Homo sapiens: one gene and its partner. The protein of the gene in region 1 interacts with the protein of each later gene in a pairwise test. Each region holds a gene or a part of one and is shown in the gene's direction. Other genes may lie near its edges.

Region 1 (7,083 bases):
GCCTGTAATCCCAGCACTTTGGGAGGGTAAGGCGGGTGGATCACTTGAGGTCAGGAGTTCAAGACCAGCCTGGGCAACATGGTGAAATCCCGTCTCTACTAAAAGTACAAAAATTAGCCGGGTGTGATGGTGCATGTTCCCAGCTACTCGGGAGGCTGAGGCAGGAGAATTGCTTGAACCCAGGAAGCGGAAGTTGCAGTGAGCCAAGATCATGCCACTGCACTCCAGCCTGGGTGACAGAGTGAGACTCTGTCTCAAACAAACAAAGATCCTGCCTGATGCCACCTGGCCAGTGTAGGGCAGAGCCTGGGCACCCTGCTCCGCCCTGTGGGTCTGGCCCTGCTGTTATCAATGGCCCCTGGCTCCAGGCCAGTGCTGGAGACAGTCAGCCGCCTGGTGGGTCCCTGGGGGCCGCCTGAAATTCCTTCAGTGGCCAGTGGCCAGGGTGGACGTGCTCTGTCTTTTCCTGCAGCCCTGGCCTTCCTGGCCAGCCAGGAGGAAGAAAGAGCAGAAAGTGTGCATCTGCCCTCTGTGGGGTCCAGGCACAGGGGCCTGGCCATCAGCCACGCGTCTCTCGGGCGTGTGGACAGACGGCACCTGAACACATCCGTATCAGTCAAAGCCCCGGCAGGAAACAGATGGCACGTTCCAGTAGGATCATTAGAGGAGAGTTTGGTGAAGGGTCTGTTTACACAGGTGTGGTCGGGGTGTAGGGAAGCCCCAAGGGACGGTGCAGAACCCCAGGGCTGGCAGCGGCGTGGGCTGTGACCACCCTCAGCCTGAAGAGGCCAGGGGAGGAGCTGAGTCCACAGCTGGACAGAGCTGGGTGGAGGGGGTCCCCAACAGGACCGTGGCCTTCAGTGGAGGGAGGCCACCAGTATGCAGTGACCCTGCAGGGAAGGGGCTGGAAGACGGACCCTCCTCCTCCTGCCTCCTCTGACCTCTGCAGGGGTGGGGAAGTGGATGTGTCCCACAAGAGGGAGAGTGCAGCTGGGGGATGTAGAAGACAGCTACCCCAAGGCCTGTGCCCAGCAGGGAGGCCATGTGGCCACCAGGCTTCCTCGGGCAGGAGACCCAGTCCAGGACTGGCCTTTTCTCCTGGGAACCAATGACAAGGCCCACTTCTCTGGGCCTCCATGACCCCCACCCCTGCCTTGACTTCTAGGGTCCCTCATGCTTTCAGCAAATCCATCTCAAGAGCTGAAAGGCCCTGGGCTCTGTGCTGGGGACACAGCAGTGCAAAGGGTGTCAAAGTCTCTGCCTTCATGGGGCTTCTAATCAAGTAGAGAGATACATGCAGATGGCTGCACACAGGCTTAGGTGTGACAGGGAAGGTCAGGATGCTGTGGGAGCCAGAGGTGACTTCCGCTTCACCCCCCACCCGCGGTGGTCCCAATCTCTTCCTTCCTCCATGAGGTGTCTGGGGTCGGGGCCCCAGTTCTTCCTGGAGTCCATCTGGAGTCTCTCCTACTTTCTAGAGAATCCATTGGGTCTTGTTTACAACGTGGATGGGGACAGACTGTGCAGCGTGGAGGGAAGGGGAGGGAGGGAGTTTTGGGAAGAGCCTCCTGTGGGGTCCCTGTCACTGCCCCAGATGCCCCCAACACCCTGTGATACCTGCAGCCCCTGCCACATCTGTCCCTCACTCCAAACTCAGCTCAGGGGATGGTGGCAGGGAAGGAGGTGAGCTTGGACCCAGGCAGCCCTGGGGTCACCACCCTCCAGCTGGGGTTCCTCCTCTGTAAAGTGGAGGTATAACGGTACCCACCTCCTGGGGTGGCTGTGAGGATTCAGAGCTGATAAGGTGAACGCCTAGGGCGGGCCCTGGTGCAGAGAGAGCGCTCAGCTCCTAGGGCTGGATTAACTGTCCCTGGGGCACAGATCTCGGTCTGGGGCCTGTGGAAACCTCAGAGCCACCCCTGAACCCCCACCGAGCCACCCTTTGCCTCGCAGTGCCCATGGCCTTGTCTCCGAGGTTACAGGAAAAGGCAGAGGAGATGCCCTTCTCAGGGTGGCCCTCTGGGAGAGGACACTCTCCCTTGACCTCAAAGCCACGCTTGGCTGCAAACTGGCCAGGCAGCCACAAGGCTGGGCAAGCAAAACTATCCCTAATCCCCACCCAAAGAGCCACACCGACCCTCCCAGCCGCTGTGACAGCTCCTGCAGAGACAAACACACGGCCTACTCTTGTCACCCGGGCCGGCCAATAAGCACGGAGAGGCAAGGCCTCAGACCCTGGACAGACATCCTCCCTCCAGAGGCACCCAGGGCCTCAGCCTTCTCCTCCCTCCCTGGGCCTCAATTTCTCCACCTGTGACCCAGGGCAGGTGGATCCAGGGAGAAGAACCTTCTGGCTCCATCTCACCGTGGGTCCTGCCAGCACACACAAAGATTTGGCCTCTCAAAGCCTAGCTCTGCCAGCGTCCTTCTGCTCAAGAACTCTCCATGACTCCCAGTGGCCCTAAGGACAAAGTCCTGGCATTTGAGGCCCTCCCAATGCAGGGCCAGACTCTGCCTCTCCAGCTTCCTGTCCCCACCACACCCCTGCTGGTCTCACGGTGGTCCGACTGTTTCCTGCTTCTGTGCCTTTGCTTAGTCTGGCACCCCTGCCTGGCATGCTTTCCTCACCCCTTCTTCTCCCCAATCCCAACTCACCCAGTCTTTCAAAGGGCAGGCCTAAATACCAGGCCCTCCAGGTGGCCCAGGATTCCTTCTCTGAGCTTTCATGGGCCTGGCCCTGGGTGCTACCTGTGAGTAGTCCCACGGTGGGTACATAGTAGGTGCGCTTACTGTTTGCAGAATGAACATGGGACAGTTTGGGGACTGTCACCCAGCTCAGGGAGCACTGATGGGGAAGCATCTCCTGTATGTCCCAGGGCTCAGTGCTGTAGTGTCCTGACCCTCAGAAATCTCATAATGGCTTGGTCAGGAAGGCATCGTGCCCCACTTTGCAAACAGGGGGTGCTGAGAATTGAGGGGCCTTGTCCAAGGTCTCATGGCTAGGAGCAAGCAGAATCGGATTTGAACCCAGGGCCACGTGACTTCAGAAGTGCCATTAAAGTCCCCATAATTTGGAGCTGTCTTCTTTTTTTTTTTCTTTTCTTTTTTTTGAGACCGAGCCTCACTCTGTCACCTAGGCCAGGAGTGCAGTGGTCTGATCTCAGCTCACTGCAACCTCCGCCTCCTAGGTTCAAGTGATTCTCTAGCCTCAGCCTCCCAAGTAGCTGGGACTACAGGCGCACGTCATCATGCCCAGCTAACTTTTGTATTTTTAGTAGAGATGGGTTTTCACCATGTTGGTCAGGCTGGTCTCGAACTCCTGACCTCAAGTGATCCGTCTGCCTCGGCCTCTCAAAGTGCTGGGATTATAGGCTTGAGCCACTACACTCGGCCTGGAGCTGTGTTTTGTCGGTGAAGGATTTTCCACCCATGAAGGGGTCAGACGTGAAGTGTGTGGCCCTGGGCAGCTCCTCTGAGCCCAGAGACGCCAGCCCTAGCCGCCTTGCTGTGCCACTTTGGGACTTCCCTCCCTAGCCTGAGCTTCAGTTTTCCTGCCTGTTAGGCAGCCCCATGTCAACTGCACTTAGTAGGCCGGGTTTGATGCCCGACAAGACGTGAAGTGGTGGAGGTGGGCAGGATCCCAGCGCTACCATCTTCTTGAACCAGTGATCTCAACACATCGGATTTCTGTTTCCTCATCTGCAAAATGGGATCAGTGAGCTCAGGTGGGTCACAAATTCTACAGGAACTACTTTAGCCAAGACCGGCCCCCTGAAAGTTCCCCTCGGTGGGCTGTTAGGGTGATTGTTTTCATCTGTGGGGCTCCCTGATGCGTCCCACCCACCAGCCTTGGAGAGGGTGGGATGGGAGGGTGGGGTGCTTGGGGAGACAAGCCTAGAGCCTGGGCCCTCCCACCCCACTGCCTCCCCCCATCCCAGGGCCCCCCACCCAGTGACAAAGCCCGTGGCACTTCCTCTACCCGGTTGGCAGGCGGCCTGGCCCAGCCCCTTCTCTAAGGAAGCGCATTTCCTGCCTCCCTGGGCCGGCCGGGCTGGATGAGCCAGGAGCTCCCTGCTGCCGGTCATACCACAGCCTTCATCTGCGCCCTGGGGCCAGGACTGCTGCTGTCACTGCCATCCATTGGAGCCCAGCACCCCCTCCCCGCCCATCCTTCGGACAGCAACTCCAGCCCAGCCCCGCGTCCCTGTGTCCACTTCTCCTGACCCCTCGGCCGCCACCCCAGAAGGCTGGAGCAGGGACGCCGTCGCTCCGGCCGCCTGCTCCCCTCGGGTCCCCGTGCGAGCCCACGCCGGCCCCGGTGCCCGCCCGCAGCCCTGCCACTGGACACAGGATAAGGCCCAGCGCACAGGCCCCCACGTGGACAGCATGGACCGCGGCACGCTCCCTCTGGCTGTTGCCCTGCTGCTGGCCAGCTGCAGCCTCAGCCCCACAAGTAGGTGTCCAGGGACCCAGGGTGGGGAGACTCGGCCTCCGGTGCACGGACCAGGCCCCAAGTATTCCCGGCCTCCTTCCTGTATCCTGAGCTCACGCCCAGCAGAGCCATCCTTGGGGCTCTGGAGGGTCACCAACCCTCCCAGTTTGCTGGAACTAAATGGTTATGCAGGACTTTCAGTGTTGAAAGAAAGCCTCGGGCAAACTGGGCTGACTCTTTCACTTTAACCCTGGTCTCTGGCGTCTGCTCACCCAGCTGCGTTCCATTACTCCCCGGGAAGCCTAGGTCCCAGAATGCTGTGCAGCGACGGGAGAGTTTCCTGGCCTCTCTGGGCCTTGAGTTTCCCCATGAGGAATGGATGGGAAGGAGGGCCCACAGCCTGGGCTCTGAGCACCGTCTCTGGGTTCAAATCTCACATAGGCACTTCCTTGTGGTGTGATCCTGGGGGACTGCCTTCGGGCCTCTGAGCGAAGTGGGGAAGAGAACAGACTTCCCTCTCAGAGCTGCTGAGGAGGTGGGTGGTGAGGGATCATTGCAGAGAGGGCTCTGGCAGACTGGCCACTTCTGTGTTGTTTTATTTTTAGCTTTAAGTTCCTCCAGCTCACCTTCCCCAGGGCCTTTGGGCAGCTCCTCAAACCCTTTGAACAGGCCAAGGCTGCAGGGCCCTGCCCTGCCTCCCTCCTACCTCCCTGATCCCCAGAAAGGGTGCAGGAGTGGGTGCAGGCCAGGTTAGGGGTTCTGTGGGGCTCCTTGGCCTGGGGGCTCTTCCAAGGGGTCATGGCCTCTGCTGCTTTCTGAAACTGACCAGAGGAGGGGCGGTGAGGAGCAAGGGACCCCCAGCCCCATGTCCCACTCCCTATCCCTCGGCCACCTCAAGCCGCTGGCCGGTCCTGTGGACATCCTTTGACCCACCTGTGCATCCAGGGGCTTCCTGACAGATTTGGGGGAAGAGGGGCAGAAATGAGCTGAGAGTGTGGGGAGGAAGGGGAAGGAAAACAGCGGTGGGGCAGCCAACTTCTCCCCACCTCCCCACCTGATGGCATTTTAGAGTCCCTGATTCTGGGTCTCTAAAGCTCTGCCCACCACCTGATTGACAGGAAACTGAGTCTCAGACATATTAAGTGACTTAGCAGGGATTTGACTCCCGGCCTGCGGCTCCCTAAATGTTTGCTCCTAGTAAGGTGTGATAGGGCGAACCCTCTTAATGCGGCTCACAACGACCCTGCAAGATGGCTGCCATCATCATCCCCATTTTACAGAAGAGAAAAGGGAGGCTCTAACCTGCCAAGTTCACATGGCTAAGACGGAGCCCCTACCTGAGCTCCAAGATCTCCCTCTCTCGTATTTGTCGCTGCAGTAACACTCTCTTCCTCTTGGTCGTTAGAGAAAGGTCCATGCAGACATTTAGGGCCTGGTTTTAAAGGATCAAAGGCAGTGATATGCTGCTGAATAATTAACAACGGGGTGGGGAGCTCAATTTGTAGCGTTTGTGGATTTTCACAGCGTAAGTACTCCCACCCGGCTGACTTCAAGCCACCAACTCACCAAGTTTGGAGCTGGGAATCAGTGCCCGGTAGCACCTGGCGGTTGGTTCTCCAGAGTCTCTGCAGGCGCAGATCACACCGAGAGCAGAGATGACAGTCAGGGGTGTAAAACGATTAGAAAGAAATGAGTTTGGACATTCATGACCTTTTAAAAATATATAGTAATAGCTATGTAACAGCCAGTTGGAAAAACTCCTGGAAACGTATCCGTCTGTTCCTGTGAGCAGGTAGGAGCTGGTCCCAGTGCACCAGGAGTCACAGGCTCAAAGGTACAACAGACCATCAACCCAACTCATTTATGGTCTGGGAAGCTGAGGCCCATGGAAGGCAGAGGGGAGCCTGGGGCCAGGGCCTGGAAGCCAGCTGGGGGTAGGGGTCGGAGTGACCCTGACCTCCTAGAAATGGGTCTAGAATTTGGGGGCACCACTTGTAAGAATCTCCTAAAACTGTACCTTGCATGTGACTTGATACCCTCACAAATCAGCCTTCAGTAGTCAGCCTTCTAAAGTTATTCGTCCAACTCTGTAAAGATGCGTGGTCCGTGGGTACCTGTAACAAAAACCCGATAACTGGAAATCATCTAAGTGTCCATGAGCAAAGACTGTTAATAAATTACCACACGACGGAATGTCATGCAGCAGGCACCAAGAAGGCAGAGTCATATGAACACTGCCATGGACGGATGTCAGGGACACACTGTTAGGTGCCCAAACAACAATAATTCCATTTTGGCAACAATAAAATAGTAATAATGTACAATATGCACAGAGAAAATTCTGGAATAGAGTTTTCTATTTAACCCACTATTACTGTTCTCTGGTCTGGGGTTTTCTCTGTGGGACTTTCACTTTCTTTTTTAAATTTTTTTGAGACAGTCTTGCTCTTGTCACCCAGGCTGCAGTGCAATGGCACAATCTAGGCTCGCTGCAACCTCCGTCTCCCGGGTTCAAGCAGTTCTCCTGCCTCATCCTCTCGAGTAGCTGGGACTACAGGCGCCGGCCCCACACCCGCCTAATTTTTGTATTTTTAGTAGAGACGGGGTTTCACCATGTTGGCCAGGCTGGCCTCGAACTCTTGACCTCGTGA
Region 2 (12,057 bases), on another chromosome or scaffold:
GGATTTGGGGAGAGGGCATCTGTCAGCTAAGATACCCAGACCTCCACGACTTCCCGAGGGGTTAAAATCCCACTGTCTGGGTCTTGGGATTTGAAGATTAGAATATAGGGACTGACAGATGGGAAAAAATAGGATCCTAGGTCCTGGGGTCTGGTAGTAGAGATTAGAGCCCATGGATTCCTGGCCTGCTGACTAGTGTGTGTTCTGTGTCTTCCAGATGTGGCCATCGGGGCTCCCTTTGGTGGGGAGACCCAGCAGGGAGTAGTGTTTGTATTTCCTGGGGGCCCAGGAGGGCTGGGCTCTAAGCCTTCCCAGGTTCTGCAGCCCCTGTGGGCAGCCAGCCACACCCCAGACTTCTTTGGCTCTGCCCTTCGAGGAGGCCGAGACCTGGATGGCAATGGATATCCTGGTGAGTTGTGCCTGAGGCCCCTTTTCACCTTAAAATTCCCTGGTCACTGACCCCTACTCTCTCTTCTGCACCTTTCCTTAAGTTCCTGGGTGCAGTTCTGGCTAATTCCAACAGAGGGCGCTGTCTTCTCACTTCAACCTCCCTGAGCGTTGAAACCAGGAGGGGTTAGGAAGAAAGGATCCTGATCTGGGGCTTGCTGTAAGAGGTGATTTCTTGACTTCTTACAGATCTGATTGTGGGGTCCTTTGGTGTGGACAAGGCTGTGGTATACAGGTATGAGCTCCAAAGGGAGATGAGGGGACAACCTGGGTGGACTGGAACTGGAAATTTCTCAACAGAGCTGAGGTTGGGAAAATCAATGCAGAGGACACACATTCTGGCGCTTGGGCATCAGTTTCCTGTGTCCAGGTTACAGAGGAGTCCTAATTCTATTGACCCCACATTCACTCTTGGCAGGGGCCGCCCCATCGTGTCCGCTAGTGCCTCCCTCACCATCTTCCCCGCCATGTTCAACCCAGAGGAGCGGAGCTGCAGCTTAGAGGGGAACCCTGTGGCCTGGTGAGCTGGTGCCCAGGAAATTGCAGAGACCTGAGCCTGGGAGTGGGCAGGGGCACCAAGTCTGCCTTAAAAAGGGGAAAATGGTGGTGTCCTAGTCTGGGTCTGGCTGGGAGATAGGTAGAGGATAGGATGTCTGTTCCAGTTGGATTCACCAGCTTTCTTCTTGGTCTCTCTCCAGCATCAACCTTAGCTTCTGCCTCAATGCTTCTGGAAAACACGTTGCTGACTCCATTGGTGAGGGAGACTGCCTGGATCTCTCAGGCCCTAGGACAGAGAATGAAGGGACTGGGGACCTGGGGACATTTCTTCTCTCTGAAAAGATGAGGAAAGACAGGCAGTTTCCCTTTATATGTCCCTGGCTTCAGGTTTCACAGTGGAACTTCAGCTGGACTGGCAGAAGCAGAAGGGAGGGGTACGGCGGGCACTGTTCCTGGCCTCCAGGCAGGCAACCCTGACCCAGACCCTGCTCATCCAGAATGGGGCTCGAGAGGATTGCAGAGAGATGAAGATCTACCTCAGGGTATGGCCCAGAGGGCGGGGTGTGGACTGGCCAGGGAGGGTGGCCACACAGAACTGAGGGCACCTCCTGAAGGGAAAAAGACTGGGGGACTCCAGTGAAGGGCTTGGGACTCTTGTAGGGGCTGAGAAAGGGAGACCTTCTGTCAGAGGAGCTGGGAAGCAGGCTGCCAGGGCCTCTGAAACAATGAGGATGGTCGGAATTGGGCCCTAAGCAGACAAAGGGAGATGAGAGAGGCTGAGGAGCAGGGCCACTAAGTCTCCAGAGTCCCCTGACTCCGTGAACTCTCTCCTCTGGCCCCAGAACGAGTCAGAATTTCGAGACAAACTCTCGCCGATTCACATCGCTCTCAACTTCTCCTTGGACCCCCAAGCCCCAGTGGACAGCCACGGCCTCAGGCCAGCCCTACATTATCAGAGCAAGAGCCGGATAGAGGACAAGGTGAGGACAGGGCAGGGAGAAGGGACCTGGGAAGACAGAGGCCTGGGTATTGGGGGGGCAGGGCCATGGAAAGAGAAGAGCCTACAGCCCAGGAATGGGTCTAAACTTCCCCTCTCAAGGCTGCCCTGCTCCCCAGGCTCAGATCTTGCTGGACTGTGGAGAAGACAACATCTGTGTGCCTGACCTGCAGCTGGAAGTGTTTGGGTAAGTAGGGCTGACGGTAAGCTAGGGAGCTCCAGGTGCACCTGGCACCTGAAAAAATCAGCTAGGGACATACTAGCTGTGTCGCCTTGGGAAGTTGCTGAGCTGCTCTGAGCTTTAACTCCTTTGTCTGTATAGTGGGAATAGTAGCATTTATTTCTCAGACTTTTTGGAAAGATTAAATGAAATAATCTACATAAAAAATCTAGCCTAGTGCCTGCCATAGAGTTAGAACTCAGTAAGCAGTGTCTATTGTTACTTTATTATTACTCTTTTTTTTTTTTTGAGACGGAGTCATGCCCTTGTCACCCAGGCTGGAGTGCAGTGGCGCAATCTCGGCTCACTGCAACCTCCGCCTCCCAGGTTCAAGCGATTCTCTGCCTCAGCGTCCCAAGTAGCTGGGATTACAGGTGCCTGCCACCATGCCGGGCTAATTTTTTTATTATTATTTTTAGTAGAGACAGGGTTTCATCATCTTGGCCAGGCTTGTCTTGAACTCCTGACCTCGTGATCCACCCGCCTCAGCCTCCCAAAGTGCTGGGATTACAGGTGTGAGCCACCACACCCGGCCTCGTATTACTACTCTTATAATGGTCCTTTGTCCTGGTTTGAGGATTAATTCACCAATGTCCCTTACCCTCTGTGTCCCTTCCAGGGAGCAGAACCATGTGTACCTGGGTGACAAGAATGCCCTGAACCTCACTTTCCATGCCCAGAATGTGGGTGAGGGTGGCGCCTATGAGGCTGAGCTTCGGGTCACCGCCCCTCCAGAGGCTGAGTACTCAGGACTCGTCAGACACCCAGGGGTGAGATGAGACTCTCGAGTGGGATTTGGGAGGATACCCCTCTAGAGGGGACACCAAAACCTGACCAGTGCCCACCCCATCTCCAGAACTTCTCCAGCCTGAGCTGTGACTACTTTGCCGTGAACCAGAGCCGCCTGCTGGTGTGTGACCTGGGCAACCCCATGAAGGCAGGAGCCAGTGTAAGTTTGGGATGAAAGAGGATGGGACAGAGGGAGAGCAGACCTGAGGGCGGTAACCAGCCAGCCGAGAGCACAGCTGTGAGGTGCGGAGGGAGGGTGAAATACACAGTCTAACTGCCCTCTTTTCCTCTTTTTCTGTCCCCAGCTGTGGGGTGGCCTTCGGTTTACAGTCCCTCATCTCCGGGACACTAAGAAAACCATCCAGTTTGACTTCCAGATCCTCAGGTAGGGAGTGAGTGTGTCTAGGCTGGGGCTGAGCTGGGGACGGAAGGGAGGGCTGGGCGCCATTCTCACTGGCTGCACTCCAGCACCTCAGTCTTGCCTCCATCCCACAGCAAGAATCTCAACAACTCGCAAAGCGACGTGGTTTCCTTTCGGCTCTCCGTGGAGGCTCAGGCCCAGGTCACCCTGAACGGGTCAGTGCCAGGCAAAATGGGGTCTTTCTGAGAGGGGACACAGACTTCTAGGGAAGGATGCATATGGGGTTCCTTCCACCCTCCTCTAAACCACCCTCCTCCTTAGTGTCTCCAAGCCTGAGGCAGTGCTATTCCCAGTAAGCGACTGGCATCCCCGAGACCAGCCTCAGAAGGAGGAGGACCTGGGACCTGCTGTCCACCATGTCTATGAGGTAAGGGGGGAAGGGGCAGGGCCAGAATGAATGATGGGAAAGGAGGAGCTAATATGAGTGACAGATGGCTGGAACCCATGTGAGGGACTGAGAGAAAGAGAGGAGGGAGGAGTAAGTGATATGCAAAGGCATGAGGCAGAGTCCTGTGAGAAACAGCCAGAGGAGAGACAGGCCAATTGAGTGGCTTGGAAAGAAAGATGGAGCCCCCTCCAAAAGTGTTGGCTAGAGAGGATTTCACCTCTGCCCATTGCTTCCCTGCTTCATCTCTGAGATAGGAGCCTGACAGCAGGGTATAGTGGAGCCATGGTGATCCAGGGTCTCAATGGGGCAGAAGCATTCCCTTCCTTCTCATGATGATTGTGCTCTTCCCTCCTCAGCTCATCAACCAAGGCCCCAGCTCCATTAGCCAGGGTGTGCTGGAACTCAGCTGTCCCCAGGCTCTGGAAGGTCAGCAGCTCCTATATGTGACCAGAGTTACGGGACTCAACTGCACCACCAATCACCCCATTAACCCAAAGGGCCTGGAGGTGAGATCCTGAACACTGGCATGGGGAAGAGGAGCAGATTCAGAGGACCAAGGCTGAGGGGTTGGGGAAGGTTGCTGGGGGCCTGCAAGAGGCAATGAGGATGTGCCTATAGCTAGGGTTGAGGGTCACAAGGCCCAAAGTTACCTCAAAATCCTCTGGAGGAAAAAGGACTTTCATCCACTGTGTTTCTTTCTGCCTGAACTATCCCTTCTTTGTTTCCCGGCATACCCCTAGGGCCCAGTTATGTGCCACCTCCTCTAGGAAGCCTTCTTCAAACCTTTTCCTCTGGGCCCGAATGCCTGTTTTATAGTTCATTTACTCATTAACATCTAATTAAATAAGTGACTGTACTGAACACTGTTAGGCCCAGGAAATATTGCACCAAACAGAACTGACAAGGTCTCCACGTTCATGGAACTTACATTCTAGTGAAGGGTGATAGACATAGAAAAGAAAAAGAGAAGGAGAAAAATTAACAGGGATTGAAAGGTGATGAAGTGAAGAGTTAATAAGCTGTAGGGACACTATTTAAATTGGATCATAGAAAAACCTCTTGAAGACGTCACAGCTGAACTGAGGCCTGAAAGATAAGGTTGAACCTGTCTATAAGACTCAGGGATGAGCATTCCAAACCAAGGGAACATCCAGTGCAAAAACAGGAACACAGACCTAATTATTTACTTAAGCATCTCCTCCAGTGTGATCTCCAAGAACCAAGTTTTCCTCATTTCCATATTTTAACCCTGAGCTCAGTGCCTTGCGCATAGGAGGTGGACAGTTGGATGAATCAATAAAGAGATAGATGAAAGAATAGGTTGAAGCTGCTCTGGAACCCAGGTGCAAGCTGACTTAGAAGCTGTAATGAGATGGGAAAGGGGCCCAACACTTTCTTTTATAGTTGGATCCCGAGGGTTCCCTGCACCACCAGCAAAAACGGGAAGCTCCAAGCCGCAGCTCTGCTTCCTCGGGACCTCAGATCCTGGTAAGTCAGGCAGGGAATGAGGTGTGGACCAAAGTGTTGAGTACTCTGGGGTTCTCAGGGCCATCACAAGGGCAGAACACCAGGTTCAAGCTTCTTTCTTCCTAGAAATGCCCGGAGGCTGAGTGTTTCAGGCTGCGCTGTGAGCTCGGGCCCCTGCACCAACAAGAGAGCCAAAGTCTGCAGTTGCATTTCCGAGTCTGGGCCAAGACTTTCTTGCAGGTGAGGGAGCCTTACCTCAGCCCTGACCCCTGACCTTTGGGCCTGCTTAGACTGACCCACCCCTTTCTCCACTGCAGTAGCCACCTCTCCTTTGGTGAATGGGACCCAGCACTCCAGCTCCCCTTCCTTGCCCTTGTCTAGACCAGGCTGTATGTCCTTGGCGCCATCTAGTGGCCACAGTGGGAGCAGCAGCTTCCCTTTCCTGGCCCATTCAGAGGAGGGAGGGCTGGAGGGAGACCAGTGTGCAAAGAATGATAGAAAAACAGTAAGATGGAAGATGAATCCATAGTGGAGAGGTAAACACATGTAGGAATAGTAAAGAGCAGTCACTTCTTGAGCACACACTGCAGGCTAGGCACTGTCCTGGTGTCAAAGCACATTAATAATTTTAAAAAAATTTTTATTGAACACGTAGTCATCTAATTATATATTATCAAGTTACAATTATTCAGTTACACATTTATTATCTCATATAAGGAACATCAAGAGAAGCTCACGGGCCAGGCACAGTGGCTCACACCAGTAATCCCAGCACTTTGGGAGGCCAAGGTTGGCGGATCCCTTGAGCCCAGAAGTTTGAGACCAGCCTGGGCAACATGGCAAAACTCCACTTCTACAAAAACAAAACAAAACAAAAATTAGCTGGGCATGATGGCACATGCCTGTAGTCTCAGCTACTTGGGAGGCTGAGGCAGGAGGATTGCTTGAGCCCAGGAGGTGGAGGTTGCAGTGACCTAAGCCCACACCACTGCACTCCAGCCTGGGGGACAGAGTGAGACCTAGTCTCAAAAAAAAAAAAAAAAAAAAAAGAGAGAGAGAGAGAGAGAGACTCAGGAAGAATGAGCCCAAAATAGGGAAAGATCACAACCCCAGCCAGACGATGGGGAACCCTATGTCCTCTGGATCCCAAGAGAGGATGTGCTAACCAACTTTCCCCTACCCACAGCGGGAGCACCAGCCATTTAGCCTGCAGTGTGAGGCTGTGTACAAAGCCCTGAAGATGCCCTACCGAATCCTGCCTCGGCAGCTGCCCCAAAAAGAGCGTCAGGTGAGTCTAGGGCCAGAGGACTGGATGAGGGAATACAGGGCTCAGAGTGCTGGAACAGGGCTGGGACTTGGGTGAGGGCTGGCCTTGGTATTGTTAACAACTGTTGAGAATGTACTATGTGCCAAGCACTGTGCAGATGCCAGAGACAGAGTGGTAAGCAAGATCAACATGGTATCTTTGCTCCTGGTGTTCACAGTCTCGTGGAACAACACAGTGTTCCAAGTGTGGTGATATTTATGAAAACACATAATAGGAACACCTGAACCCAGTCTAACTGGGTCAGGGAAGGCTTCCTGGAAGAAGTGATGTTCAAGCTGAGACCTGAAGAATAAATAGGAACTAACCAGGCTAGCCATTCAGGAAAGGGATATCCTGGGGAGAGGTGAATAACAGATATGAGGCTGAGCGCAGTGGCTCACACCTGTAATCCCAGCACTTTGGAAGGCCAAGGCAAGTGGATTGCTTGAGCTCAGAAGTTCAAGATCAACCTGGGCAACATAGTGAGATCCTGTCTCTACAAAAAATACAAAAATTAGCCAGATGTGGTGGCGCATATCTGTGGTCCCAGCTACTCGGGAGGCTGAGGCAGGAGGATCGCTTGAGACCAGGATGCAGAGGTTGTAGTAAGCTGAGATCACACCACTGCACTCCAGCCTGAGTGACAGAGTGAGACTCTGTCAAAAAAAAAAAAAAATGGATATGATATGAAAGCCCGAAAGTAAGAGACAATATTGTACATTTTAGGAACTTCAATTTTTAAGTTCAGAATGCTGTTAGTTCAAAATAAGAGGTGGAGTTGATCTGGAACCCAGACTCAGACATTGGCACCTAATCCAGGCAGATCCAGGACTATATTTGGGCCTGCTCCAGACCTGATCCTGGAGGCCCAGTTCACCCTGATTTAGGAGAAGCCAGGAATTTCCCAGGACCCTGAAGGGGCCATGATGGCAACAGATCTGGAACCTCAGCCTGGCCAGACACAGGCCCTCCCTGTTCCCCAGAGAAAGGGGAGCCCACTGGGCTCTGCAGATCCAATGACAAGTGGGGGCCAAGTATAGGGTAGAAAGAACTTCTGAGCTTTCATTGACTTCACCCAACTTGCTCCCCAGGTGGCCACAGCTGTGCAATGGACCAAGGCAGAAGGCAGCTATGGCGTCCCACTGTGGATCATCATCCTAGCCATCCTGTTTGGCCTCCTGCTCCTAGGTCTACTCATCTACATCCTCTACAAGGTCAGCCACATCCTGCTTGTGACTTGGCCACCCTCTCATCAGGCTCTGCCCTTGACCTGGCACAGTCCCAAGTATCTACCTCTAGACCAGTTCACCAGCCATGTGCCCCCACCTCTGTCCTGGCTACATGCATCCCATCCTAACCCTTCCTATAAGATCCCCCCCTTCATTCTATAGCCCCTAGCTTAGAAAGGGTCCTCTTGACTCAAGATGATAAGTTTGCCTATACTTGCAAAATCATTGGAACCCAAAGATGACAAATACGTGGCATTTGTGCTGTCAATTTCTCCAAAAATCCATGGCAGCCATCACTAACCTAGAAATGGCTACTGATCATCTCCTAGAAGTGGCTTCAGAATCTCTCTCAAGAGGCAGCCATGGCCAGGTGTGGTGGCTCACACCTGTAATCCCAACATTTTGGGAGGCCAGGGTGGGAAGACAGCTTGAGCCCAGGAATTCAAGACCAGCCTGGGTAACACACTAGGACCTTGTCTCTACAAAAAAAACACAAAGATTAGCCAGGTTTGGTGGTGCGTGCCTATAGTCCCAGCTACTCTGGAGGCTGAGGTGGGAGGATCGCTTGAGCCCAGGAGTTTGAGGCTACAGTGAGCCATGATCATGCCACTGCACTCCAGGCTGGTCAACAGAGTGAGACCCTGTCTCAAAAACAAACAAACAAACAGAAGCAGCCACTACTAAGCAATCAGACTTGGCATTTGAGTTCAAACCTATCTGCCATTTCTGGCTTAACTGGGGAATTTTAAAGGCACTGGTAAAAGATACCCCCCATACAAAATCACCCCCAAGTTTGGTCCTCCTGGGTCCATTGCACAACTTAGAGGGGTAGTCCTAGCCTGAATTCAGAGGCCACTTTTGCAGGATGTAGAGGTTGGAGGCACTAGAGTCCTCCTTATTACTTCTTGGAATAAGAGCTGTGGAGAAATGGCAGCCATAGTACCTAAACTCTCCCTCTTTTCCCCTTTATCAGCTTGGATTCTTCAAACGCTCCCTCCCATATGGCACCGCCATGGAAAAAGCTCAGCTCAAGCCTCCAGCCACCTCTGATGCCTGAGTCCTCCCAATTTCAGACTCCCATTCCTGAAGAACCAGTCCCCCCACCCTCATTCTACTGAAAAGGAGGGGTCTGGGTACTTCTTGAAGGTGCTGACGGCCAGGGAGAAGCTCCTCTCCCCAGCCCAGAGACATACTTGAAGGGCCAGAGCCAGGGGGGTGAGGAGCTGGGGATCCCTCCCCCCCATGCACTGTGAAGGACCCTTGTTTACACATACCCTCTTCATGGATGGGGGAACTCAGATCCAGGGACAGAGGCCCCAGCCTCCCTGAAGCCTTTGCATTTTGGAGAGTTTCCTGAAACAACTTGGAAAGATAACTAGGAAATCCATTCACAGTTCTTTGGGCCAGACATGCCACAAGGACTTCCTGTCCAGCTCCAACCTGCAAAGATCTGTCCTCAGCCTTGCCAGAGATCCAAAAGAAGCCCCCAGCTAAGAACCTGGAACTTGGGGAGTTAAGACCTGGCAGCTCTGGACAGCCCCACCCTGGTGGGCCAACAAAGAACACTAACTATGCATGGTGCCCCAGGACCAGCTCAGGACAGATGCCACACAAGGATAGATGCTGGCCCAGGGCCCAGAGCCCAGCTCCAAGGGGAATCAGAACTCAAATGGGGCCAGATCCAGCCTGGGGTCTGGAGTTGATCTGGAACCCAGACTCAGACATTGGCACCTAATCCAGGCAGATCCAGGACTATATTTGGGCCTGCTCCAGACCTGATCCTGGAGGCCCAGTTCACCCTGATTTAGGAGAAGCCAGGAATTTCCCAGGACCCTGAAGGGGCCATGATGGCAACAGATCTGGAACCTCAGCCTGGCCAGACACAGGCCCTCCCTGTTCCCCAGAGAAAGGGGAGCCCACTGTCCTGGGCCTGCAGAATTTGGGTTCTGCCTGCCAGCTGCACTGATGCTGCCCCTCATCTCTCTGCCCAACCCTTCCCTCACCTTGGCACCAGACACCCAGGACTTATTTAAACTCTGTTGCAAGTGCAATAAATCTGACCCAGTGCCCCCACTGACCAGAACTAGAATCTGTGATCTCATGTTACTCTTTCCAAACCCATCCTGGAACCAAGCGACTTGGTGGAAAGCAGATGCCTATTTCTCTCATGGCTTCTTTCCACTAGGAGCCAGAAGTATGACCCCCCAGAAACTGTGAAACTAGTTCTAGGCTCCCTTCTTAGGTGAAAGAGGTGATGGAAGGAGAGAAAGCAGGGCTTGACTCCTCTGCCCCTCCCTCATCCCCCATCAGACCTGGTCCCCAACACTCCCAAGGGAGAAGGGAAAGGAACCTCTTCTCTTTGGGTTTGAGGATTAGAGCAGAATGCAAAGGGGGAGGTCCAAGGTGGAGGTGGGGGAGGATGGTTCAGAAAATTTACCAGGCTTCCCTAAATCAGAATAATGAAATGAGTTGAGAGGAAAAAGCCACGGAACTAAATTAGAAGAAAGCCCAGTTAGGTTTTTGTATTGCTTTGTTTTCATTGCTACTGTGTGCTGGTAGGGGGTGTTAGTTTGCATACATTATCACATTTAATTTCTCACAGAGTTCTGTGAGGTTGGTACTATTTATCCCATTTACACAAAGAGAAACTGAGGCCCAGAGAGGTTACATAACTTGTGCAAAGTCACACAGTGAGTGGCAGAACAGAGTGAAACTCAGCCTTATCTGGCTGGGAAAGCCCGAATTCTTAACCAACATGCCACAGGGTTCAGATCTTTGAAGATAAATCTCGCAAAGTGAGGGACCCTCAGGGTTCTCTTTTCTCCTCAAGGCCTGTCCTAACGGGCAGCAAGAGGGAGAGCAATTGCGGTTGTTGGAGACAAAGATGTCCCTGTCAGGATAGACTAAAATTCAGCCACCAGAGGGCAGCATAGCCACAAATTTATGGGAAATTTGGGAAGGTAGGGTATGAGGTCCACCTCACCCTCTTCCCCCATCACCAGGACTATTCTCATTAACTCAGGCTTCTGCCTAGCAGGGCCTGCATCACCTAAAAATATCCCTCCTGGGAGACCAACCCTGGACCACACTCCAGTCTGTGACTTCTTAGAATGCTCTGAGTCAGGAATGTCTTCACAGAACCCACAAATGAAAAGGGGCTGATGGGGTAGAAGAGACAGGATGAGACAAAGAACCCCCTAGCATTTCTAAGAATGGCAGCCGTGGCATAACAAGGCACCAGAAATTCTAGAGGGAGGAAATCCCATACCTGATACATTAAGAGGAGTCCCCTTCTTGGGAGAGAGGTGGGGGTAGAAGCAGCCAAACTCCAGGGGCCAGACCTAAAATGTCTTCCACTGTTGTGAGGAGGAAATAAGGAAGGGAAGTGGGCTGTGAAAATTGGGCTGGTGTCATGGGTGTGTCACTGTGTAGGGCCTGTACTTTTGAGAGAGTGACAAGTTCTTACCCGTGGATGCACAATATAAGGAAGAAATTCCTTGAGCTCAGAAATGCCACAGATGTAATCTAGTATGAGCCTCTCTTTCCCTGAGCTCTAATTCTCAGACTCCTGGTCTAAGTTTCTTCTCCCAAATCTCCCAACCCTCCGAAGGAAGTGTGGCTCCCACCTTGAGACTTGAATAATCCAGACGAATTTAAGTGTAGGGGGGCTAGAAGGCCTGAGCCCTATCCTTGTCTGTGTTGGTGGAGATGAAAAGGAGAAGGAAAGGAGGCCTTAGGAAGTGAACAGAGCAGCTGGGGGTGCAGGGAGGGGGAGGGGGCTCAGGAGAGGCAGCTGGCAGGCGGGAAGCTGATCTGGGGGTCTCAAGTTTCTTGACATCAATTAGAGCAGCCGGCCTGGGCTCATTAGTAGCCCGGGGTGCAGGGCTCATCAATAATGAATTCACCCCACACACCTTCCCCCCACCCCAGCTGCCTGCAAGGTCACCCCGTCCTCTAGCCAGCTGCTTCCCCTTGGTAAGCTTAAGCAACCCCTCTTCTGAGATCTTCCTAACCCAGAGTCCCTGGGGCAGTGTGGCAGGGTGGACAACAGCTGAGCGCAAAGGGGTCTCTAAAACCAATCGACCATGCCTGATGATGGCTCTTGTTTAGTCTCTGAGTCCACCCAGGAGGAGAAAGAATGGGAAGAGGAAAGGAGGTGCAGGGTCTAAGGAGAAGCAAGGGTTTTTCATACTGGAGTTGACCAGCATGGTGGTAGGTCAGACCCAGAGCAGGAGGACCTCCTCTGATGGACCCAGAAACCCCATATCCTCTCCCAAGGCCAATCCCCTGAGATC

The links.
Region 2: the proteins of ENG (region 1) and ITGA5 interact in binary tests that used the Homo sapiens proteins (3 or more experiments, as listed by UniProt).

The regions. Positions count from the first base shown.
Region 1 is NC_000009.12:127,851,659-127,858,741, reverse strand, and holds the start of ENG (endoglin isoform 1 precursor), read left to right. Parts: upstream 1-4,083; 5' UTR 4,084-4,386; coding exon 4,387-4,453; intron 4,454-5,791; exon of another isoform or gene 5,792-5,864; intron 5,865-5,998; exon of another isoform or gene 5,999-6,057; intron 6,058-6,449; exon of another isoform or gene 6,450-6,539; intron 6,540-7,083. UniProt on the Homo sapiens protein: Vascular endothelium glycoprotein that plays an important role in the regulation of angiogenesis. Required for normal structure and integrity of adult vasculature. Regulates the migration of vascular endothelial cells.
Region 2 is NC_000012.12:54,393,055-54,405,111, reverse strand, and holds the end of ITGA5 (integrin alpha-5 precursor), read left to right. Parts: intron 1-217; coding exon 218-409; intron 410-538; exon of another isoform or gene 539-614; intron 615-636; coding exon 637-682; intron 683-865; coding exon 866-967; intron 968-1,145; coding exon 1,146-1,201; intron 1,202-1,332; coding exon 1,333-1,487; intron 1,488-1,787; coding exon 1,788-1,925; intron 1,926-2,061; coding exon 2,062-2,129; intron 2,130-2,781; coding exon 2,782-2,932; intron 2,933-3,018; coding exon 3,019-3,111; intron 3,112-3,256; coding exon 3,257-3,336; intron 3,337-3,446; coding exon 3,447-3,527; intron 3,528-3,633; coding exon 3,634-3,739; intron 3,740-4,116; coding exon 4,117-4,266; intron 4,267-5,164; coding exon 5,165-5,248; intron 5,249-5,353; coding exon 5,354-5,467; intron 5,468-6,413; coding exon 6,414-6,515; intron 6,516-7,624; coding exon 7,625-7,747; intron 7,748-8,735; coding exon 8,736-8,819; 3' UTR 8,820-9,851; downstream 9,852-12,057.